4 linked regions of the Homo sapiens genome follow. The protein of the gene in region 1 interacts with the protein of each later gene in a pairwise test. Each region holds a gene or a part of one and is shown in the gene's direction. Other genes may lie near its edges. The genes, in order: KHDRBS3, RBBP6, CACNA1A and CCDC33.

Region 1 (7,038 bases):
AGGTTCAAGTAATTCTCATGCCTCAGCCTGAGTAGCTGGCATTACAGGCGTGTATCACCACGCCTGGCTAATTTTTGTCTTTTTTCAGTAGAGACGGGGTTTCACCATGTTGGCCATGCTGGTTTCGAACTCCTGATCTCAAGTGATCCACCCATGTTGGCCTCACAAAGTTCTGGGATTACAGGTGTGAGCCACCATTCCTGCCCGATGTTCTTTTTCAACTTGAGGAAATTTACTGAAAGTTGTTATGAATGAATGTCGCCATTGGCCGCATGCTTTTTCTGCTCTATTTATATGATCACATGATTTTCCTACTTTGGCCTTGTTGATGTGGTGGGTTACATTGATTTTCTAATATTAAATCAACCTTATGTACCTGGAATAAATCCTACTTGGTTATGGTGTATAATTCTTTTAGCACATTATGGAATGGAGTTTGCTAATAGTTTTGAGGATTTTTGTACCTGTGTTCATGAGAGATGCTGATTTCTAGTTCTTCACTTTAGACTGTCTTTATCCACATTGGTTATGAGGAGGCCTTGTTCTTGTTCCCCCTCAGACCACATCTCATTCTAAGGAGGTCACAGAGCATTTGGGCTGGTCACAAATCTGGCACCTGTTAATGCTTTTCCTCCCCATCTCTGGCCAGTTGTAGCCTCTGAGGGTGATTTAGTATTTTGAGAGATACTTCCTTTGTCAGGTCCCAACCAGTGCTCAAGAATAGGCTGGGGACAGTCACCTCTGGCCTCCCTGGCTGGCCCAGACTGGTCCCAGCCTCTGATGAGTAATGTAGAAATACTTTGAACGAGGCACTTCCAATGACCAGCCCCACAGATTGGGTTAGGAAGTGTTCCCTCTGCTTTTATTTTTTGGACAAGATTATAGAGAACTGGTATCATTTCATTCTTTAATATTTGACAAAATTCATTGAAACCATATGGAGTTGATGCTTTCTTTTTTGGAAGATCATTAACTATTGATTAAATTTATTTAATAGACATAAGCCCATTCAGATTATTTAATTCTCTTTGTGTTGGTCATTATGAATCAGAATCAGTCACATTCATGTAAGTTAAAAAATGTGTGAGCTTGGAGTTGTTCATAGTATTTCTTCATTATTCTTAAATGTCCTTGAGGTCAAAAATAATGAAATCCTCTTCCTCTCTCTCTCTCTCTTTTTTTTTTTTTTTTTTAATTTTTCTGAGACAGAGTCACTCTGTCACCCAGGCTGGAGTGCAGTGGTGTGATCCTGGCTCACTGCAACCTCAGCCTCTTGGGTTCAAGTGATTGTTGTTGCTCAGCCTCCCAAGTAGCTGGGACTATAGGCACACACCACCGTGCCCAGCTAATTTTTGTATTTTTAGTAGAGATGGAGTTTTGCCATGTTGACCAGGCTGGTCTTGAACTCTTGGCCTCAGGTGATCCACCTGCCTTGGCCTCCCAAAGTGCTGGGATTACAGGCCTGAGCCGTCACACCCGGCCAAAACCCTCTTCATTTCTGATATTGGTGTTTGGGCTTTTTTTTTCTCTTTAGCCTGTCTAGAGGTTTATCAATTTCATCAGTCTTTTCAAAGTCCAGCTTTGGGTTTTGATAATTTGCTATTTTTGGAAAATGAGTCTTTAGCTGCGTATTTGCTATCCCAGACACACTGAAGAAGGAGGAAGCTGATCTGTAGGCAGCCAGCCTGCCAGCTGCAGTTCTTCCTGGAGGGCCTTATCCAGATGAGGTCATCATGCTGTGTCTGTATTCTCTGGGGTAGCCACACTTTTCTGTCCTTATGTTTTCTCAGGTTTTTGCTTCTGTGGAGCCATTCTTGATAGAGCCATCTCCTTCCTTCCTGACTTGAAGTCTTATGATTTACATTAGAAATACATGAATATGTTGAATTCTACCTCAGAAAATGCCTGTGTTTACTTAACCTAAGAATGTTGTTTTATTACCATGTGGTTGACACATTATTCAGGAAAGTATATTTTATTGTCTCTCTGGTGGAATTTTGGCATATATTTTGGCCTCTGGCTTTGCTCACAGCTGTTCTGAGACAGTTTTAAAATCTCTCTGAGCCTCAGTTTCCTTGTCCTGAGATAAGCAAGAAAAGGCACACCTCATAGTGTGGGAGTGAAGTTTGGGTGTAATCCTGGCATGGCATTATATAGAAGTCTTGGGTGCATGTGGCTTCTCCAAATATCACAGTTTCCTACTCTGTGTATTGACCAGAGATTAACTCCAGACTTCTATATTGTTGCTAGACGAACTGCCTAAATGCCTTAATTTCCTTTTGACAGACACCTGTTTCATGTTTGCTTTAGTTCTTTGCTTGTGACTTCCTTCTTCCTTTTTACAAAAATATAGAACATTGATTTTGTTTCTGAGGTATAAATATATGTGAATAACAGAATGTTAGAGACTATGATAGATACTGCTAATTTGACTCTCTTGGTTACAGGGGAAGGGGAGGAGTTACAGCCCGGCCAGTTGGAGTTGTAGTACCACGAGGGACGCCAACTCCCAGAGGAGTCCTGTCCACCCGAGGGCCAGTGAGTCGGGGAAGAGGACTTCTCACTCCCAGAGCAAGAGGAGTCCCCCCAACTGGGTACAGACCTCCACCGCCACCCCCGACACAAGAGACTTATGGAGAATATGTAAGTGAAGGTGTCAGACAACAGCCTTGTTCATCAGATTGACTTAATCCAGACTTAGCACTGGATATTGTACCCGCGTACGCTTCCTCACCTTGTTTTGGTTCTTGAGTATTCTACTTTGTTTCAGCAAATATTTATTGAGTGCTAAAGAAGTACTTAATACTAGAGGTATAAAAATGGCCTGATCTTTTTCATCAAATAGTTTAAATCTAAGGTATGGAAGAGGAGTTTGGGTGGTGGGGAGGTGTAAGACTAAGGTTCAGGAGACATATTTTCAAGCCCTTACAGGAATTTAATGTAACATTCTTGCATATTTCACTCCTGAATACTTCAGTCATTTAAAAAATAATTGCCTGCGTATACCAAGATGGTTTCCGCCTTAACTGTTTCCTTTTAAGCTACTCTGCTGAGTATGGATTCTTAGTGGAAATTCTTTTCAGTAAAGAAAACAAAAGTTCTCTATTTTCAATTAGTGCAAATCAGTTTTTCATTTATCATTCAGCGATTCTTTGATATAATTCATAGACTGACTTAACGTAAGAGAGAATAATAACCGTGAAAGTTGAGGGGGAAGGGAATTCTTTGATGTCCTCATTTACCATAAATGAAGAAAATAAGAAGCAATGGATAGGTGATTCATATTAATAATTGAAATTGTTAAAGTAAGTGTATGTGAACCATTGTCAATGAAAGGGAAGCAGTAACAATGATAAAATGCAAGTATCAGTAGGTTTTCATTGTTTTACTTTAGGAGAGATCTCTTGCTAGGTGCTCTGTGCCTCTTTGCATAGTTTCTAGAAGGTTGCAATAATCCCCTGGGCCTCAGACAACCTCTTCAACCTCATCTGTGTGGCCACTGGTAAGATCAAAGTCTTTGTCTTGGACATATTTAAGTTTTTGTAATTCCCTGAACATTCTGTGTCATCTTAGTCTTCCAGACCTTTGCTTATACTGCCTCCTCAGCCTAGAATGGTGTTCTTATGTTTCATTTGACTGTCTCCTTGTGTCCTTCTACACGTAGGTCAATCATTGCTAGGGAAATTTAGAGGTGGTAATAGCTAACCTGTTGAGCATTACTACAGTTCTTACATTTCTCTCTCCCACCTAGCTTGTGAACCTCTGGAAGGGCAGGAATGGATAGCTTTTATCTCTTTATACTTGGGAGAGAGTGCATACTGGGAGCCCACTGAATTATATTTTAACAAATCCCGTAATAGTTTTACAAGTTTGTTATTCAGCTGAGGAAGGATGTGTTTCCTCTCTTTGAATTCGTTACAGTTAAATGTGTTCCTACTTCCTAATAATCTTACCAGATGACAATAATAATTATGCCTCAGCTCTTCCATAAATGCTGAGTCTCCTGAAAGTATCAGGGACTCTAAAGGAGAGTAAATCTTAAATTCCTTTTAGGTAGGCCCAGTGTCTGTTCATTTCCACTTTGGCTTACATTGATTTCTTAGGTTTAGATTTAATACAGATGTGGTTGGATGATGTAGTAGAAATTGCCAGGCAGGTTGTGTGGGAAACCTGGATCCTATACCCCATTTTACCATAAATTTTAATATCGGGCAAGATATTTAACTTTTTGGGCTTCATAATCCACTTATTTCAGAAAGAACTATTGCCTTCATTACATGTATTCATCTTTCCATTCAATAAAGATTGGATTTCTACCGTGTGAGCCAGACACACATGTTGTCTGTCTCAGCATGTATACTCTAATTATTAGAGTCTGGAAATAAATTATATAGATTAATAAAACTGAAAAATTCTTGAAAGGTTAAAGTCCAAAGGAGGAAAAGCAAAAGCAAGAGACATTCAAGACATTTGGGTTTGCTGCTTGTACTTTTGATTGTTTTATTTATTTTTTATTTTTGTAAATGATAGGAAAGGCATTAAAACAATTGAATTGAGAAGTATTCTGTAGGATTAATTTACTCCCTTTTCCATCTGCTACCAAAGATAATGGGATAATGGCCCTGTAGAAGATTACCTGCGTTTTTCCAGAACCAGACAAAGGTTTAAGAGCTCTAAAGGAAAAAGTCAACCTTCATTGTTTGATTCCCACACTCACTCATGCCTGGCACTCTTCCAGGCACTGACTGTTACTGCAGCTGTGATTTCAACACAGAGCCAGTGCTCTTTCTGTCACATGGTAGCGTTGCCTTCAAATAACTGACGGTCATATCCGCCAGTGTTGTAATTTGGCTGGAATGCAGTATTTGCAATTTTATCAGCTTCATACAATTACAAGTCTTGCATACATAAAACAGCTGTGTGCTTTCCAGGTGTGCTTTGGGTGGTATAGTGGGACACCAAAGGAAAAGAAATACCATCATGAGTGCACCTCCTTCCCCGAGTTGAATTATCATCATGAAGGGTTCAGATTACAAACGTTATAGCTTTCCCACTTAATTTAGCATCTATTATTCCTGGCAGTGCCTTTTAAGATTACTAGTCAAGAGAAAAGATTTTCCTCATTTAGCTTAGCATTTTGTGAGCTGCCTTGGCACAGTTATAGTAAAAGCTTCAGTGGCTTTTTCAGTATAGTAAAAGCTTCACTGTATATAACAAACTTTGCTGGTACTTGGTATAAGGAGTAGATAAAGCCCTTCAGCTTGCTTACAGTGGCTTGCCATCAGTAGCACTGCCTTGCAGATACCCGTTTGACCTCATCTTCCTCCACTGACCCAGTTTTCTACTTCCAACTTTTCTAATACAGCTTGCAACCTCTGGCATAACTTCAGACCTTGGCCATTGGTCTCAACTGTTTGAAAACCTAAAGATTACTCACCCATCACGCTTAGTTTTGCAGCATGGTAGGGGGAATGGGAAGTAAATTCTTCTTAAAAAATTTTTTTATGTTGGGCTCGGCACGATGCTCACGCTTGTAATCCTAGCATTTTCAGAGGCCAAGGTGGGCACATCACTTGAGGTCAGGAGTTCAAGACCAGCCTGGCCAACATGGTGAAACCTCATCTCTACCAAAAAAAAAAAATACAAAAATTAGCCGGGTGTAGTGGTGCGCACCTGTAAACCCACCTACTTAGGAGGCTGAGGTGGGAGAATTGCTTGAACCCGGCAGGTGGAGGTTGCAGTGAGCTGTGATCGCCCCACTGCACCCCAGCCTGGGTGACAGAGCGAGACTCCGTCTCAAAAAAAAAAAAAAAAAAAGAAAAATCGTTTCTTTGTTTCTTGGATTTTAGATAGGGTGGGTGTATTATAAGATACCCAACTTAGAAAACCAAGGAGCTTGTAACACAAATAAATGGTTATTCATTCATGCATCAAATGGGAAAGTTGGCCATCTTTGAATATACTAAAATTATTACATGGAACTAGAACATCTTAAATTAGATTCTAAATTCCATGAGGGTAGGCACTCTCCCCCTGCCTCCCCTTCCTCCCACCCACCACACTTCACCTTTTTATTCCCAATAACTAGTATATAATGTCTGGCACATAGTAGGTCTTTAGTAAATATTTACTGAATGAATGAATGAATGGTCACAAGATGGTTTTTAAAAATTGTCTCCTGCAGAGAACCCACCACAGATGCCTTCTGTGTGATTTTTCAGTTTTATTCACATAGCAATTTTTATGTAACATAGTATTTAGTATATAGCTATGTAGAACAATCATAATATGTCCAGTTTTCAAAAGATTATTAACTTCTAAGGAAAAATTCTTTATCTCTAGGTTAATCTCTGGCTACTAGCTCAGTTTTTGGCACATTGTAAGCACTTAGTAAATGTTCGTTGGACTGAACCAACCCTATACAGAGACTTGATAACATTGTTCAGATGAAGATTACCATTGATTTTTTCTAAGTTCCTGGTAAAAGCATGTGATGGGAAGAAATATGATAGTATTTGAGAAAATAACTTTCCTAAGTTACTGTTGTCTTCTAGCACTGGACGGGTAGTCACAGGTTACAAATGAATAAGATTAATTTTGTTAGCTCCTGAAGGAAACAGAAAAACCTACTGTAAATCTCATCTCAGTATAAAAAGGGGCTTTAAAGAAGGATGTAATATTTGATGAGAAACTGCTCTCCACAAGGCACTTTGATATATGTCACGTTTTCCTTATAACCACCTACTATGATCTCTACTGTACAAATGAGAATTTAAGGTCAGGGAAGTTAAGTGCCTTGCCCAAAGTCACAGGACTGGTAAAGAAGGAGCAGATTCAGGATTCAAAGTTCAAGGCCTATGTTCTGTCTTGAAAAACCAGTGCTTTAAAAAACAAAACCAAAAAAAAAAACAGTGTTCCACTAGCCGAGGTTATAAATAAAATCTCTTCATCTTTGGAGAAAGTGTAACAGATGCTGCATGTTCCCTTCATCAGAAATGCCATAAAAGGGATTATAGGACACTGAATTAAATAACCTCT
Region 2 (7,038 bases), on another chromosome or scaffold:
TTAATGTGCAATTTTGTATTTACCTACTGCTTTTATTTTTTGTTTCTAGGTCCAGTAAGAATAAATACTGCTCGTCCAGGTGGTGGTCGACCAGGCTGGGAACAGTGAGTAGATGTTTACAATAATCTTCAGATGATTGCCTGCAAACTAGATAATGGAAGGTCCAAACTAGGCAAACTAGATAATGGAAGGTCCAAACTAGGCAGCGGGTCGCTGCTCTTTATTGTAAACTTTCATGTGCCAGATTAACATTTTTTATGTAAAATGTCAAAATTCAAGCTTATATGAGGGTTTTTTTTAAATGAGCAAATCTTTTCTAAAATACAAAATTTTAAAAGTTTTTTTCTACTTTCATATCCAACAAATGGGGATCTTGACAGGACTTCAGTTTAATGAATAGATAAGAATTACTTGAAAAGTTATTTTAAATATGGTGGCAGTTATTTTCCTAGTAGGTTTAACTTTTTCTACCCTTAATTTGGATGATCAAAGTTTGATTTGAGTACATAAATACATAATAAGATTAACGTCTACCAAACAAAAATTTTTTGTCTGAAATCGAGTTGTTCTTGCCACCCTAAAATACAAAGAACTTTGATTTTCTCTGTGGGATATTTTATGGCATTAAAAATCAGCAGACTTACTTAATGTATTTTTAGTTATATAATTATTTCTGTTTATATAATCCGATTGAAAATTGATATATTCTTAAAAGTATGAGTTACTAGCAGGATGTATCAGTAGAAGGAACATAGGATTTAGAAACAGGTAGACTTGGGTTTGAATCCCATCTCCTTCATTTCCTAGCTGCATGACAGTGGTCTTGTGGTTTTACTCCCTAACATCCATTTCCTCGTTTGGATTTGGAATGACACTACCTACCTTAACATGTAAAATGACTTCATTGTGCCCAGCAGACAAAAGGGCTCTTTTCCTTGTATATAACAATAAGTTCACAGAGTAATTTATAGAGTGCTAATTAAAATATAATATTACATAAAGTAATCTATTTTGAGGTCTAGTTATTGTTATGATACAGTTAATTGGTGGGGGAAAGTTAGTTTTAAGTAAATATAATATTTACTCAGCTCTGTATCCGAAACAAATTTAAGAACTGGGGAGTAGGAAAAAGTTTTCAGAGTAGTTAAAATTGGTGTCTTAACAGCTATGCATGGAAAGGTCATGTATTATACCCATGGAGAAATACTTGAGCCTATTTTTTTTTCTCCCACACAGTTCCAACAAACTTGGCTATCTGGTTTCTCCACCACAACAAATTAGAAGAGGGGAGAGGAGCTGCTACAGGTAGGCATGCTAAAAATCTTGGAAAATAATCATCTTATTTTTTATATATATATCTCACCAAAGAAATTAAAGCACAGCAGTGGCAGGAAGGAAGGGGGTCATTTGTTTGTATTGTGCTTATCCCTCTTAAGTCCTGGGTAGTTGTCCTTAAAGAGGGCTAGAAAAGAATAAATTATATATAGTATCTTAAATGATGGTTTTTAAGACATTTTTAATATTCCTTCCCAGTGATTACTTTCTCCCTGTCAGCAAACAGCAGAGTATTGGCTTGCATTTACCCTCTTGGAAGTAGAAGAAAGTCAGGGGTCAGACAATATCTAAGATACCAGTTTAATTTAAGATTAAAGTTAACAAGCTCAGCTCCCAACTGTGAACAAGAATTGCAACTATTTCTCTTCTAGACCCCACTGTCCCAATCATCTCCCACCGTCTCTTTTCCAAAAGAAGAGACAGGAGATTGTTAGAGGCTCCTGCCCTAGTGGGCGGGTACAAGCAATATTAATCTAAGAAGTAAGAATCTTACTGTCTAGGTCAGGGGTCCCCAACCCTGGGCCACAGACCAGTATCCATCCTTGGCCTGTTAGGAACTGGGCAACACAGCAGGAGGTGAACAGCAGCTGAGCGAGCATTACCACCTGAGCTCCACCTCTTGTCAGATCAGCAGTGGCATTAAGATTCTCATAGGAGCATGAACCCTGTTGTGAACTGCGTGTGCAAAGGATCTGGGTTGCACGCTTCTTAGGAGAATCTAATGCCTGATCATCTAAGGTGGAACAGTTTTTACCCCCCTGCCCCCGTCCATGGAAAAATTGTCTTCCACAAAACAGCTCCCTGGTGCCAAAACGGTTGAGAACTGCTAGTCTAGGTCATAATCACCACCAGGATAAAGGAGCCTCCAAAACTTCATAACAAGAGTTTTGGCCAGGCATAATGGCTCATGCTGGTAATTTTAGAGCTTTGGGAGGCTGATGGGGGAGGATTGCTTGAGGCCTGAAGTTCAAGATTAGCCTGGGCAACATAGCAAGACTCTGTCTCTACCAAAAAAATAAAATAACCAGACATGGTGGCATGCACCTGTGGTCCCAGCTACCTGGGAGGCTGAGGCAGGAGGATCACTTGAGCTTAGGAAGTCAAGGCTGCAGTGAGCTATAACCACATCACTGCACTTTAGCCTAGGGGACAGAGTGAGACCCTGTCTCCAAAAAGAAGGAAATTCGGGATATCTTCTAGTGCTTCATTGCTAAACTTATGAAAGTTTACTATGTCATTACTGGATCACATTTTAAAAGAAGGTAATAGTTATTCATGGCTCACTGAAAAGATGCTTAAAATCTAAACCCCTACTGTTGCTGTTGTGTACCAATTATTTATAATTTAAAGCACCTCTAGTTTAACAGAAGTAACCAGTTCTGTTTGGTGAGGCACAAATTAGAAACTTAGCCAACACTGTTATTTTTACTTAAGCTTTTGAGAGAAAGCGTTGATATTTTCATTGTTAATTATAGAAGTTAAAACTAGAATTTATTCTGCTTTGTATGATCTTTACCCACTTCCTCCCTCAAAAAAGAGGTTACAGGAGTTGGTTTTCCTTCATTTAAACTTTTGGGGCCAGGTGTGGTGGCTCTCACCTGTAACCCCAGCACTTTGTGCAGATCACCTGAGGTCAGGAGTTTGAGAACAGCCTGCCCAACATGGTGAAACCCTGTCTCTCCTAAAAATACAAAAATTAGCTGGGCATGGTGGCACACGTCTCTAGTCCCAGCTACTTGGGAAGCTGAGGCAGGAGAATTCGCTTGAACCCAGGAGGTGGAGGTTGCAGTGAGCCAAGATTACACCACTGTAGTCCAGCCTGGACGACAGAGTGAGACTCTGTCTCAAAAAATAAAAAATAAATGAATAAGTAAGCTTTTGGGGAGAGCTAGGTCATAGCAGCATTAACCTGTCAGTGCCTTCAAAAGACAGTTTAGGAAGTAACAGGTAGTAATTAGTGGAGTGATAATCAGTCTGAACTTCATAAAAGAGAACTTTTAAATACAATATTTCCGTGTAGAGAAGGTCCTATAAACTTGCATCATCTCAGTCGAGACATGGCCTTAAAAATTATGTTGTAGAGTTATTTTTACAAATAAATTGTACTAATGTTGCTACACTAGTTGAATAGTTGGTTCTATTCCACTGTTTTTAAGTTTGAAAATAATTATGGATAGAAGAGATAAGCTTACTTGTCTCAGATGACTTTAGTTTGAAGAAGTAATATCTTGGAATTTATTTTTCCAGAAGTATAAACCGTGGGCGACACCACAGCGAAAGATCACAGAGGACTCAAGGCCCGTCACTACCAGCAACTCCAGTCTTTGTACCTGTTCCACCACCTCCTTTGTATCCGCCTCCTCCCCATACACTTCCTCTCCCTCCGGGTGTTCCTCCTCCACAGTTTTCTCCTCAGTTTCCTCCTGGCCAGCCACCACCCGCTGGGTATAGTGTCCCTCCTCCAGGGTTTCCTCCAGCTCCTGCCAATTTATCAACACCTTGGGTATCATCAGGAGTGCAGACAGCTCATTCAAATACCATCCCAACAACACAAGCACCACCTTTGTCCAGGGAAGAATTCTATAGAGAGCAGCGACGACTAAAAGAAGAGTATGTATTCTAATTTGAAATTATTATACACTTTTTTCATTTTCTGATAATAACATTAAATAGGTGTCTGGAAACGTTTTCCAGTGTTTCCAGTTAGTATGAGAAATTCACCTAAAATTTAAACCAAAGCCATACAAGCAACTTCTCAGGGATTCCTAGTTTATAGTTTTAAAGTGGAAAACTAATGGCAATTTCATTCATTTCATTCATGATCTAATTACATTTGTCTTGTTAGTTTTCTTAAATGGTTTTTGTTAACTTTCACTCTTTAACTTTATTTTACTAGGGAAAAGAAAAAGTCCAAGCTAGATGAGTTTACAAATGATTTTGCTAAGGAATTGATGGAATACAAAAAGATTCAAAAGGAGCGTAGGCGCTCATTTTCCAGGTTAGTGTTTTGCAAGCCTTCACAACAGAATTACAAACGGGACTTTGAATATCCAGGGATTAGCTATGGATATAAAGAACATTGCACTTAGGAATTTTTCTGATTCGGTCTAGGTGTATAGAAGTGAAGATGTAGCTTATTTCCCAATATCTGTTCATTGAAATAATGTCTCAGTGTAAATTTTATTGTGTAGAACTAACAGTTGTGGGGATTAAATTGCCCTTGTCCCTTAAAGTTATTCATAGTATCAAATAATTGGGAAATGTTTTTGGAAGGAAAGAAATAGGGGAATAGCCAAAAAACAGTTCCCAGGACCCTTTTACCATAAGGCTACAGCTTCTTGCTGGAACATTAACCTGCGTAATTATGAAGTAGTAGTAGAATACAGATCGCTTTATTGATAGAAAAAGTGAATTATAAAAATTCCCTGGAAGTTTGTTTAAAAGACTTTATTTTTTAGCCTTACACTTGAAATGTGGTTTCTTTTAAAACTAGGCTGTTGGCCAGTATAGGACAAAAAACAGACTCCTACTTCAATATTCAGATAGGAAGTGAAATTTAAAATTAATTGACATTTTGTTTAATGTTAGTTAGCTCATATAACTCACGGTACATTAATGCACTTCACTCTAATTGTTAAGACTTCACTTTTGTTTTGTAACAAGTGATTGCTCCGATTTGTGTACTTTATTCCATTCCAGTAGAGGTCACTGTGCCTCTTTAATCATCTAAGATGAAATTTGATATAAAGATAGATGAAACCGTGAGGAAAGAATGCTAGAATCTGAGAGTCTGTGTTTTATTTTGTATGTATTTCTCAACTATCAACTATTGTTTTGTTTTGTTTTTAGGTCTAAATCTCCCTATAGTGGTTCTTCGTATTCAAGAAGTTCATATACTTATTCTAAATCAAGATCTGGTTCAACACGTTCACGCTCTTATTCTCGATCATTCAGCCGCTCACATTCTCGTTCCTATTCACGGTCACCTCCATACCCCAGAAGAGGCAGAGGCAAGAGCCGCAATTACCGTTCACGGTCTAGATCTCATGGATATCATCGATCTAGGTCAAGGTCACCCCCTTACAGACGCTATCATTCACGATCAAGATCTCCTCAAGCGTTTAGGGGACAGTCTCCTAATAAACGTAATGTACCTCAAGGGGAAACAGAACGTGAATATTTTAATAGATACAGAGAAGTTCCACCACCATATGACATGAAAGCATATTATGGGAGAAGTGTTGACTTTAGAGACCCATTTGAAAAAGAACGCTACCGAGAATGGGAGAGAAAATATAGAGAGTGGTATGAAAAATATTATAAAGGTTATGCTGCTGGAGCACAGCCTAGACCCTCAGCAAATAGAGAGAACTTTTCTCCAGAGAGATTTTTGCCACTTAACATCAGGAATTCTCCCTTCACAAGAGGCCGCAGAGAAGACTATGTTGGTGGGCAAAGTCATAGAAGTCGAAACATAGGTAGCAACTATCCAGAAAAGCTTTCAGCAAGAGATGGTCACAATCAGAAGGATAATACAAAGTCAAAAGAGAAGGAGAGTGAAAACGCTCCAGGAGATGGTAAAGGAAATAAGCATAAGAAACACAGAAAAAGAAGAAAAGGGGAGGAAAGTGAGGGTTTTCTGAACCCAGAGTTATTAGAGACTTCTAGGAAATCAAGAGAACCTACAGGTGTTGAAGAAAATAAAACAGACTCATTGTTTGTTCTCCCAAGTAGAGATGATGCCACACCTGTTAGAGATGAACCAATGGATGCAGAATCAATCACTTTTAAATCAGTGTCTGAAAAAGACAAGAGAGAAAGGGATAAACCAAAAGCAAAGGGTGATAAAACCAAACGGAAGAATGATGGATCTGCTGTGTCCAAAAAAGAAAATATTGTAAAACCTGCTAAAGGACCCCAAGAAAAAGTAGATGGAGAACGTGAGAGATCTCCTCGATCTGAACCTCCAATTAAAAAAGCCAAAGAGGAGACTCCGAAGACTGACAATACTAAATCATCATCTTCCTCTCAGAAGGATGAAAAAATCACTGGAACCCCCAGAAAAGCTCACTCTAAATCAGCAAAAGAACACCAAGAAACAAAACCAGTCAAAGAGGAAAAAGTGAAGAAGGACTATTCCAAAGATGTCAAATCAGAAAAGCTAACAACTAAGGAAGAAAAGGCCAAGAAGCCTAATGAGAAAAACAAACCACTTGATAATAAGGGAGAAAAAAGAAAAAGAAAAACTGAAGAAAAAGGCGTAGATAAAGATTTTGAGTCTTCTTCAATGAAAATCTCGAAACTAGAAGTGACTGAAATAGTGAAACCATCACCAAAGCGCAAAATGGAACCTGATACTGAAAAAATGGATAGGACCCCTGAAAAGGACAAAATTTCTTTAAGTGCGCCAGCCAAAAAAATCAAACTCAACAGAGAAACTGGGAAGAAAATTGGAAGTACAGAAAATATATCAAACACAAAAGAACCCTCTGAAAAATTGGAGTCAACATCTAGCAAAGTTAAACAAGAAAAAGTCAAAGGAAAGGTCAGACGAAAAGTGACTGGAACTGAAGGATCCAGCTCAACTCTGGTGGATTACACCAGGTAGCTGAGTGTAGGGGGTGGGTGTGGAACTTTGTTGGGAGAAGGATTTTCTTCAGTTTTATCCATGCTTGTGCTTTTTATATTAATTATGAATGCTGA
Region 3 (3,576 bases), on another chromosome or scaffold:
CCATGAAGCGTTCAGCCTCCGTGCTGGGCCCCAAGGCCCGACGCCTGGACGATTACTCGCTGGAGCGGGTCCCGCCCGAGGAGAACCAGCGGCACCACCAGCGGCGCCGCGACCGCAGCCACCGCGCCTCTGAGCGCTCCCTGGGCCGCTACACCGATGTGGACACAGGTGGGCAGCCCTGTGGTGCTCAGGGACAAGCAGAACAGAGGAGAGGAGAGGGGAGGAGAAGGCAGGGCGGAGGAGACACTAAGGAAGAAGAAAGGGAGAGGCCTCCATGGAGAGGGGACAGAGGGGGCCAGGCAGCAGCTGCAGGAACCTGGGTACTACCCCCTCCCCCCAACCCACTGACCTGCCTCGGTTCAGGGGATCTCTAGGGCCCCCACACCTTCCAGGTGGCCTCCTGTGTGTGCATCTGCCCCACCTCTCCCTCACGACCACCTGTGTGTCTGTCTGACCCTCACCCGGCCCAGGCTTGGGGACAGACCTGAGCATGACCACCCAATCCGGGGACCTGCCGTCGAAGGAGCGGGACCAGGAGCGGGGCCGGCCCAAGGATCGGAAGCATCGACAGCACCACCACCACCACCACCACCACCACCATCCCCCGCCCCCCGACAAGGACCGCTATGCCCAGGAACGGCCGGACCACGGCCGGGCACGGGCTCGGGACCAGCGCTGGTCCCGCTCGCCCAGCGAGGGCCGAGAGCACATGGCGCACCGGCAGGTGGGTGCGGCTGCAAGTGACCCCAGGCTGGGCTCGGCCGGGAGGCGGGGAGGAGAGAAGGGGATACCCCATCCAACAGCCACTCTAGGCAAAGGTCCCCGGATCCCGGCTGTGACCACCTCCCATCCTGCCCCCAAGCCACCGGGGTGCCCGGCGGCCGGAGCGGACACGGATCCCCACCACACCAGCTGCCTATGCTGTCCCCCCAGCCCCCTTGCCCACCCGCCGCCCCCTCCCCGCCGCCCGCAGCTGCTTGCTCCTCGGTTGTGGATCATATTTGAGTTCTGGGCCGTGCCGCCCGACCTTTCACTTTCCTTTAACCCGGCTTCTGTTTTTGTTTCAATTATGATTTCTGTCCTCTGGACGCCTGTGAGTAATTTTTGAAACTTCTGCTATTTTTAACCCCGAAACTTACAAAACTCCATTTCTCATTTCTCTTTTCACTTTGTTGTGTTGGTTTTCGACTCCTCCCCTCCCTGTCTCACTCCCCCTCCTCCCCTCCCTCCTCCCTGTGGCTGTTGCTTTTTTCCATTCAATGTCCTGTGTCCCCCCTCTCCTCCTCCTCCTCCTCCTCCCCCTCCCCCTCCTCCCTCTCCTCCCGGCCCCTCTCCCTTCGCTCCCCTCTCTTCCTCCCAATCCCGTGTCTCCTTTGATTTTGTTGTATCTTTTTTTTTGATTTCCTTTGTTTCAATTTTCGTGTAGGGCAGTAGTTCCGTAAGTGGAAGCCCAGCCCCCTCAACATCTGGTACCAGCACTCCGCGGCGGGGCCGCCGCCAGCTCCCCCAGACCCCCTCCACCCCCCGGCCACACGTGTCCTATTCCCCTGTGATCCGTAAGGCCGGCGGCTCGGGGCCCCCGCAGCAGCAGCAGCAGCAGCAGCAGCAGCAGCAGCAGCAGGCGGTGGCCAGGCCGGGCCGGGCGGCCACCAGCGGCCCTCGGAGGTACCCAGGCCCCACGGCCGAGCCTCTGGCCGGAGATCGGCCGCCCACGGGGGGCCACAGCAGCGGCCGCTCGCCCAGGATGGAGAGGCGGGTCCCAGGCCCGGCCCGGAGCGAGTCCCCCAGGGCCTGTCGACACGGCGGGGCCCGGTGGCCGGCATCTGGCCCGCACGTGTCCGAGGGGCCCCCGGGTCCCCGGCACCATGGCTACTACCGGGGCTCCGACTACGACGAGGCCGATGGCCCGGGCAGCGGGGGCGGCGAGGAGGCCATGGCCGGGGCCTACGACGCGCCACCCCCCGTACGACACGCGTCCTCGGGCGCCACCGGGCGCTCGCCCAGGACTCCCCGGGCCTCGGGCCCGGCCTGCGCCTCGCCTTCTCGGCACGGCCGGCGACTCCCCAACGGCTACTACCCGGCGCACGGACTGGCCAGGCCCCGCGGGCCGGGCTCCAGGAAGGGCCTGCACGAACCCTACAGCGAGAGTGACGATGATTGGTGCTAAGCCCGGGCGAGGTGGCGCCCGCCCGGCCCCCCACGCACCCCACGCACACACCCCACCCGAGGAGCCGCGCAGAGGCCGCGGGGGCCCAGCACAGAGGGCCCGGGAGAGGGCCAGCCGGGAGACCCCAGACTCTGGAGAGGCCAGGGCTGGGCCACAAGGGTGTCCCGCAGAGACCCTCGGCCAAAAGAGACCCTCCTGGGCAGCCACGGCGCCCCCCAACCAGCCCCGATCCCCCCACCCACGACAGGGGCTCTCGGGTGGGAGGCAGGGAGCAGACAAACCACACAGCCAAGGGATTTGAATTAACTCAGCCATTTTTGGAGAACTTTGGGGAACATGAAAAAAAAAAAAAAAAAAAAAAAAAAAAACATTTTTAAAAGAAAAAACGGGGAGAAAAAAATAGCTTCTATTGATGAGTTTTATCATCTCAATTGAATCTTTCCTTTCCCTGATGAAGACAGCTGGTGGCCGAGTGCGGCAAAGAAGCCAGAAGGAACCAGAATCCCAGTGCCCTACACCCACCACCAGACACACTCACACCCACACACGTTCTCAGACACACACAAGAGTGCTTGCCGGTTATACCAAACCCTACTATTACTGCCTGCAGAAATCAATTTAAAAAAATAATAATAACAATAAACAATTTTAAAAAGGACAAAAAAATTAATGATTGAGAAAAGAGGCATTTTTTTCTGACATTTGGTCCTGCTTGAAACAACAAAAGAAGAAGAAAAACCCACCATCACCACCGATTCCTTTGCTTCTTTTTTCCTTTTTTCCTACCTTGTTTGAAAACCGTGGGCTTGGGACTGTGAATTATTGCATGACATTCAAAAAGAAAAAAAAAATAAAAAAAAGTTGAATCAAAGGGCTTTTGGATAGGAGTGGTCTTTGTCCCTTGGCTAGGTGCTGCCTGGGTGGGTCTCTCTTGGGGAATCATACAAAGAGGCACTTCTTTGTTAGCTCCTAGAAGCACTGTTTGAAAGCGACAAGGAGGCCGGGCATCATGCACGCCTGTAATCCCAGCACTTTGGGAGGCTAAGGCAGATGGATCACTTGAGGTCAGGAGTTCGAGACCAGCCCGACCAACATGGCAAAACCTCATCTCTACTAAAAATACAAAAAAAATTAGCCATGCGTGGTTGCACAAACTGTAATCCCAGCTACTCCGGAGGCTGAGGCATGAGAATCACCTGAGCCTGAGAGGCGGAGGTTAGCAGTGAGCCAAGATCCCACCACTGCACTCCAGCCTGAGTGACGGAATGAGACTCTTGTCTCAAAATAAAAAAAAAAAAGGCAGGGCGCGGTGGCTCACGCCTATAATCCCAGCACTTTGGGAGGCCGAGGTGGGTGGATCACATGAGGTCAGGAGTTCACAACCAGCCTGGCCAACATAGTGAAACGCC
Region 4 (6,354 bases), on another chromosome or scaffold:
AAGAGGGGCAGGGCAAAGCCAGTGAGGCCCAGAACACGGGTGAGGATGTGCAGGCCACCAAGGGCACCCGGGCTTCTGCCTGGGCCCAGGCTCCAGGTTGTGCAATAGGGTGGCTGGGAGCTTCTCCCAGATGTGCATGCTGCTGGACTCTGGCAAATAGGAGCCCCTCGCCCACAGACACTCACACAGTCCCTGCCCAGCTGGGTCCTCTCAGGGATGGGAAACAGAGAATCCAGTCCCGTCCCAAGCCCTCGGGCCAAGGGATATCTGCCTTCCTGCTACTGACCATGCTGATTTGAGCTGGGAGAGGCTTCCTCCCTGAGCCAGCTCCCCAACCCACCTAACAGTGTCCATGAAGCAGAAACTGCTGCTGAGTGAGCTGGATATGAAGAAACTGAGGGACAGGGTGCAGCATTTGCAGAATGAGCTGATTCGAGTGAGCTGGGGCTTGTGGGGGCAGAGGGGAGGGAGCTATGGTGGGGGAGCATCGGGGTGAGAAGAGTCTGGGAGGAGAAGGGAGAACAGGCACAGAGGGAATGGAAGCACGGAAGAAAGGGGGACCAGCCTGGTGGAGGATTCAGCAGAGGGGCCGAGGTGGACCCTCAGGGCCAAGGTGGACTCCCAGGCACCCATTCTCTCCCCTTCTCTCCTCCCCCATCTCACAGAAGAATGATCGAGAGAAGGAGCTGCTCCTTCTGTATCAGGCCCAGCAGCCACAGGCCGCTCTGCTGAAGCAGTACCAGGGCAAGCTGCAGAAGATGAAGGCGCTGGAGGAGACTGTGCGGCACCAAGAGAAGGCAGGTGGCAGAGGGGCTGCCCCCGAGGCCAACTGATGATGGCAGAGTAGGGAGCCCCTGGGCCAGCCCAGCCTCTGCTCTGCTCTCCAGGTGATCGAGAAGATGGAGCGGGTGCTGGAGGACAGGCTGCAGGACAGGAGCAAGCCCCCTCCTCTGAACAGGCAGCAGGGAAAGCCCTACACGGGTGGGTCCACACCCTGATGTGATCAGCTCCCCAGCTTCTGCTCCACCCCTGGAGGCCCTGCCTTCCTGGAGCCTCTCAGCTTCAGGAGAACCTGCGAAGAGGTCCCCTGCACTCAGTTATGTCTGTGGGCCTGGGAGACCCAGGATTGCCCTGCTCCCCTCCTCATTCAGGCGCCCCATCCAGAGATCCCCTGAGCTCCCTCCTTCCCTGGAAGCCCCTCAGAACACAATTGGGATGCAGTGTGAGCCAGGCTAGAAAGAGGGTGGACCTCCAGAGGAGGGCCCTGCAGACTAGCACAGCAGAGAGGGCCTTCCCCTGAAGAAGGGCCACCTGGGGCAACACTTCCCAGCTCCTAGCCCCAGGATCCGTCGAATTATTTCCCCATACCGCCAAAGATTCTGCCTCTGCAAAGCAAACAAACAAAAATACTTTGATTAAATCAATGATCTGGGGCCAGGCGCAATGGTTCATGCCTGTAATCCCAGCACTTTGGGAGGCCGAGGAGGGCAGATCACTTGAGGTCAGGAGTTCAAGACCAGCCTGGCCAACATGGTGAAACCCCATCTCTACTAAAAATACAAAAATTAGCTGGGCATGGTGGCGGGCACCTATAATCCCAGCTACTTGGGAGGCTGAGGCAGGAGAATCACTTGAGCCCAGGAGGCAGAGGTTGCTGTGAGCCAAGATTGTGCCACTGTACTCCGGCCTGGGTGACAGAGGGAGACTCCGCCTCAAAATAAATAAATAAATAAATGATTTGGAGGTTTTCTTCCCCATCGATATTAACCAAAAGCCACCTAAAACTGCCAATCAGCCTCTGATAAGCAGAAAGGACCAGGTAACACCATATCAGGCCAGCCCAAAGCAAGGGATTTCCCTGAGCCTGCCTGTGCAACCTCACCCAGGGCCCCTGTGTGCCCAGCCCTGTGCTTAGCCTTCACCGCTGAGGGTCTCAGGGGCAGGAGGGTGTTTCTAGGAGCCTTTAGAATGCAATGAAAGCTGGGCTGGCCTTTCAGGAAGCCTGAGGTCATCCAGGAGTCTGGATGAGACTGAGAAGGCAACCTAGGGAGGGGAAACAGCCAGATCAAAGGCCCAGGGAGTGAGAAGAATTCCAGGATCAGAGAAGGGAGGAAGAGAGAGAGGTGAGGAGCTGAAATACACTGAAGACAAATGAGGAGTTAGAGAGAACGTTGAGGTCAGGTTCTAAAGAGCCTAGAAGGACAGCCTGTGTGCACCTGATCCCACTGGTGGTAGGGAGCCATTGAAGGCTTGGGAGTAGAGGGGAGGGGTGGCAGATTGAAGCAAAATGCTGGAGCAGATCAGGACAGGGACATGGGAAGCAGGAGAGCCCATCTCACCAACATCTGTGGCCGTGTCTCTAGGCTTCCCTATGCTCTCAGCCTCTGGCCTTCCCTTGGGTTCTATGGGAGAGAACCTGCCGGTTGAACTTTACTCGGTGCTGCTGGCAGAAAACGCGAAGCTGCGGACGGAGCTGGATAAGAACCGCCACCAGCAGGCCCCCATCATTCTGCAGCAACAGGCCCTGCCGGTAAGAGGCCCTTGACCTGGGCCTGCCTATGCCGGTCACTGGGTGCCCAGAAATCACCCATGGTACAACCCAAGTTGAAGATCAAGACCAGGAGCTAAGCTTCCCAGGGTCTCCAGTCTGCCTGGGGGCTCCTGGAATCAGCTCTCAGGCCTTGGTCTTTTTCTCCTGCGGAATGTGTGTCCCCGAACACTTCACCTTTAACCTCATCTAGCATCCCAGGAGAAAGCAAGCCCCTTGTTGACCCTTGGTCCCTGAACCCTGACCCCTTTTTCACCTGGCTGGCCTCCACCTGGACCCTACACAGGCCTCTCAAAACTCCCTTCTGGAGCATTCCCTGGTCTTGGTGCAGCCTTGGAGAGCCCTTTTCCATCCCAGGTGGACCCCGGGGAGTTGGGAGCAGGAGGAGACTTGACAGAGAGGCTACAAGAGACGCATGGCCCAGGCCACTCAGAGTGCACAGAGACCCTGCCCGCACAGGTGGGTGGCCCAGGGCCCAGAAATGCCCAGGCCCTGCTCCACCTCTGAAGATGCTTCAGGGGCCCCTTGCTTTACATAAACCCCAAAGCAGAACATTTGGAATCACAGAATATTGGGCAGGGCAGGGGCACAGGAGAGTTTTCTCTCCATCCCAGGACTCGCCGGAGGTGAGTTCTGTTGAAAGCACACCTGACTCATGGACATCCAGGTAAAGTGTGAGGGATGAGGTCAACTGCCTCACAGGTTCTTCACTTCACTCAAAGACTCCCAGTGCGTTAATTATAGGGGGCTCCCTAATGCATTTTACATTAAAAAAAATGTTGTGTCAAAACTTCGTATTCTCAAAATCTGTGTGGGAAACAGCTGTGAAAAAAGCACATGCCAGACCCTGTTCTGAACTTCCAGAAGAGGGTTCGGCCCAGGTCTGACGCTCTGCCTCGGGAGCTCAGTCTGAACTCAGGCCTGACTGGTTTCTTCCTCAATACCTTATGGTTTCCCAAGCTCACACTGCCACAGCCTCCAGCTGGGGCCAAATGTGAGTTTGTGCTTTGCCCACAGGATCTCCTCTCTGGTACTTCAGACAAGTTCAACCTCCTGGCCAAGCTGGAACACGCTCAGAGCCGGATCCTGTCCCTGGAAAGCCAGGTGGGTGAGATGCAGGAGTTGATGAGGCTGGATCAGGCTCACCACACAGCCTATAACCAGGGCTCAGTGTGTGAGCAGAGTCTAGGCTCAATCTATGACCAGGATCAAGGCTTAGTGTGTGGCCAGGGTCGGGGTTCAGTGTGCAACCAGGGTCAGGGCTCAGTGTACAACCAGGGTTAGGGTTCAGTGTGTAACCAGGGTCAGGGTTCAGTGTACAACCAGGGTTAGAGTTCAGTGTGTTACCAGGGTTAGGGTTCAATGTGCAACCAGGGTCAGGGTTCAGTGTACAACCAGGGTTAGGGTTCAGTGTGTGACCAGGGTCAGGGTTCAGTGTACAATCAGGGTCAGGGCTCAGTGTACAACCAGGGTTAGGGTTCAGTGTGTGACCAGGGTCAGGGTTCAGTGTACATCCAGGGTCAGGGTTCAGTGTGTGACCAGGGTTAGGGTTCAGTGTGTGACCAGGGTCAGGGTTCAGTGTACAACCAGGGTCAGGGTTCAGTGTGCGACCAGGGTTAGGGTTCAGTATACAACCAGGGTCAGGGTTCAGTGTGCAGCCAGGGTTAGGATTCAGTGTGTGACCAGAGTCAGCGTTCAGTGTGCAACCAGGGTCAGGGTTCCGTGTACAACGAGGTTAGGGTTCTGTGTATGACCAGGGTTAGGGTTCTGTGTATGACCAGGGTTAGGGTTCAGTGTATATCCAGGGTCAGGGTTCATTGTGTGACCAGGGTCAGGCTCTGTCTATGACCAGAATCAGGGATCAGTGTGGACTCAGGATCAGAGCTCAGTATGTTGTTGAAATGTCCATCTGTGTCTTGGTCAGGCTGCCTGACTGTTTGGCCCCCTCACCCTCACCCCGCCACCCCTGAGGTCTCGGGAAGGTGTCAAGCCCACATGGCCCAGAGCTTTGCTTTCTGCCTGGACAGCAGGCTCAGGCCCTGGTTGTCCTGGCCATCAGGGATTAGCCCTGCTGCCCATGGTCCTCCAATTGTCCCTCTCTGTGTCTGCAGTTAGAGGACTCAGCTCGACGCTGGGGACGAGAGAAGCAGGATCTGGCCACACGGCTGCAGGAGCAAGAAAAAGGTTTCAGGCACCCCTCGAACTCCATCATCATAGAACAGCCTGTGAGTGACCCCCCTGGAGTAGCTCCCAGGGGTTCAGGTGGTGGAGCAGGAAGCCACCGCACCCCCAAAGTCACTGGGCCCTGAGAAAAGCCATTGTGGAGCCAACTCCAGGGCTGGGGGTCAGGAGTCCTAGGCTCCCATTCCTGCTCCATTACCAACCGAAGGCTCGGTCTTAATTCCCCCACCTGTCTAAGGGGAACAGAAAACCCCTGCCAAAACTACCCTTTCCCCCATGGGGTGCTGTGAAACTCAAGGAGATGACTGTGGATGAGGGGTCCATGCAGGCATCTCCAGGATGCCCTGACACTGTGCTTTAGGACTGGCTGCGCTCATGGGCAGAGTAGCTTGTGGCCCTACCCCCCTGAATCCATAGAGCCTAAGATTCTCAAATTAGCACACCCTTCTCAGATGGCCACGATGTAGGCTCCACTTTGCCAACTTCCCGAGAACAAACAGGCCTGCTCACAACTGCCCCTCAAGTTCAACCCCGGGACCGCCCAGCCCCGCAAAGCAAAGACCCTGACTTCTCCTGCTCTTGAGCCAGCTGTGCTTTGCCCGTGGCCAGAAGCTCAGCAGCGGCTCCTGGGAAAGGCCTGGAAAGGATGAGGGAACAGGCAAGGAACAAAGGCAACCTTTGCACACTCACCTGAGCCCTGGGGACCCTTGGAGAAATTAGGTGTCACCTGCTGTGGCAAAATGGGTTTAGAAATCTTTGCCAGGTCATGGCCCACTGGATTCTGGATACTCTGAGGCCTGGTTTGTCAGGCAATATGCCCTTGAGCAGGTCACCCCCTGGGAATGGGGGGTACTCACGCACCCCGCTTTGCACACCACAGAGTGCCCTCACCCACTCCATGGACCTCAAGCAGCCCTCAGAGCTGGAGCCCCTGCTGCCCAGCTCAGACTCTAAGCTCAACAAGCCCTTGAGCCCCCAGAAGGAGACCGCTAACTCTCAGCAGACCTGAGCCCCAGAGCAGGCCTCCTTCCCTGTGTGCTGGGGAGTCTCATCACCGCCCCCTAAAAATGACGTTATTAAATGTTGTAGCTCTGTGAGCATTTTCCTCTTTCCTGGAGCAGGGCAGCCTGGGGGCCCTGCTTCCTCCTCCTAGACCTCACTCTGGGCCTGGGCCTGGGTCTTCTGCTGCAGCCTTACAGCCTCCCGCCTGCCCCAGGAGCCAGCATCTTTGGAAAGCCAAGGGCCACAGTGGACCCAGGAGGGTGGAGAGAAGAGGCCTTCCAAAGCAGGGGCCAGGGAGACGGGCCCCTTCCAGACCCGGAGAAGAAGCAAGGCCACCAGAGACCAGCTCTGTTGGGAAATACGAGGGAGGCTTGTCCTTTTCATCTGCCCCAAAACATCTATCATGTCTGATATTCCTTCTTTCAAGTTTGGTTTGTCTGTCTCTTGGAAAGGGAAAGACTTGGAGGCTTGAAGCCTTCCTGTGGCAGTCACGTATCATTGTGAAATACTCCATTAAGCCACTAGGCTGAGCTGGCAATGATGTGTCCAAATGTAGCCGGGGCAGGAGAGCAGATTGGGCCAGGGGAAAGGAGGCACCTACAGGGAGTCAGGAGGCCCAGGTT

What was found.
Region 2: the proteins of KHDRBS3 (region 1) and RBBP6 interact in a two-hybrid assay, tested with the Homo sapiens proteins (one study listed by BioGRID and IntAct).
Region 3: the proteins of KHDRBS3 (region 1) and CACNA1A interact in a two-hybrid assay, tested with the Homo sapiens proteins (one study listed by BioGRID and IntAct).
Region 4: the proteins of KHDRBS3 (region 1) and CCDC33 interact in a two-hybrid assay, tested with the Homo sapiens proteins (2 studies listed by BioGRID and IntAct).

What each region holds. Positions count from the first base shown.
Region 1 is NC_000008.11:135,579,431-135,586,468, forward strand, and holds part of KHDRBS3 (KH domain-containing, RNA-binding, signal transduction-associated protein 3), read left to right. Parts: intron 1-2,447; coding exon 2,448-2,643; intron 2,644-7,038. UniProt on the Homo sapiens protein: RNA-binding protein that plays a role in the regulation of alternative splicing and influences mRNA splice site selection and exon inclusion. Binds preferentially to the 5'-[AU]UAAA-3' motif in vitro.
Region 2 is NC_000016.10:24,563,561-24,570,598, forward strand, and holds part of RBBP6 (E3 ubiquitin-protein ligase RBBP6), read left to right. Parts: intron 1-49; coding exon 50-104; intron 105-1,236; coding exon 1,237-1,305; intron 1,306-3,582; coding exon 3,583-3,945; intron 3,946-4,231; coding exon 4,232-4,333; intron 4,334-5,184; coding exon 5,185-6,939; intron 6,940-7,038. UniProt on the Homo sapiens protein: E3 ubiquitin-protein ligase which promotes ubiquitination of YBX1, leading to its degradation by the proteasome.
Region 3 is NC_000019.10:13,205,904-13,209,479, reverse strand, and holds the end of CACNA1A (voltage-dependent P/Q-type calcium channel subunit alpha-1A), read left to right. Parts: coding exon 1-168; intron 169-470; coding exon 471-724; intron 725-1,426; coding exon 1,427-2,167; 3' UTR 2,168-3,038; downstream 3,039-3,576.
Region 4 is NC_000015.10:74,330,316-74,336,669, forward strand, and holds the end of CCDC33 (coiled-coil domain-containing protein 33), read left to right. Parts: coding exon 1-39; intron 40-347; coding exon 348-436; intron 437-665; coding exon 666-797; intron 798-887; coding exon 888-981; intron 982-2,363; coding exon 2,364-2,530; intron 2,531-2,905; coding exon of another isoform or gene 2,906-3,007; intron 3,008-3,565; coding exon 3,566-3,652; intron 3,653-4,659; coding exon 4,660-4,773; coding exon of another isoform or gene 4,774-4,857; exon of another isoform or gene 4,858-5,181; coding exon of another isoform or gene 5,182-5,196; exon of another isoform or gene 5,197-5,609; coding exon 5,610-5,738; 3' UTR 5,739-5,826; downstream 5,827-6,354.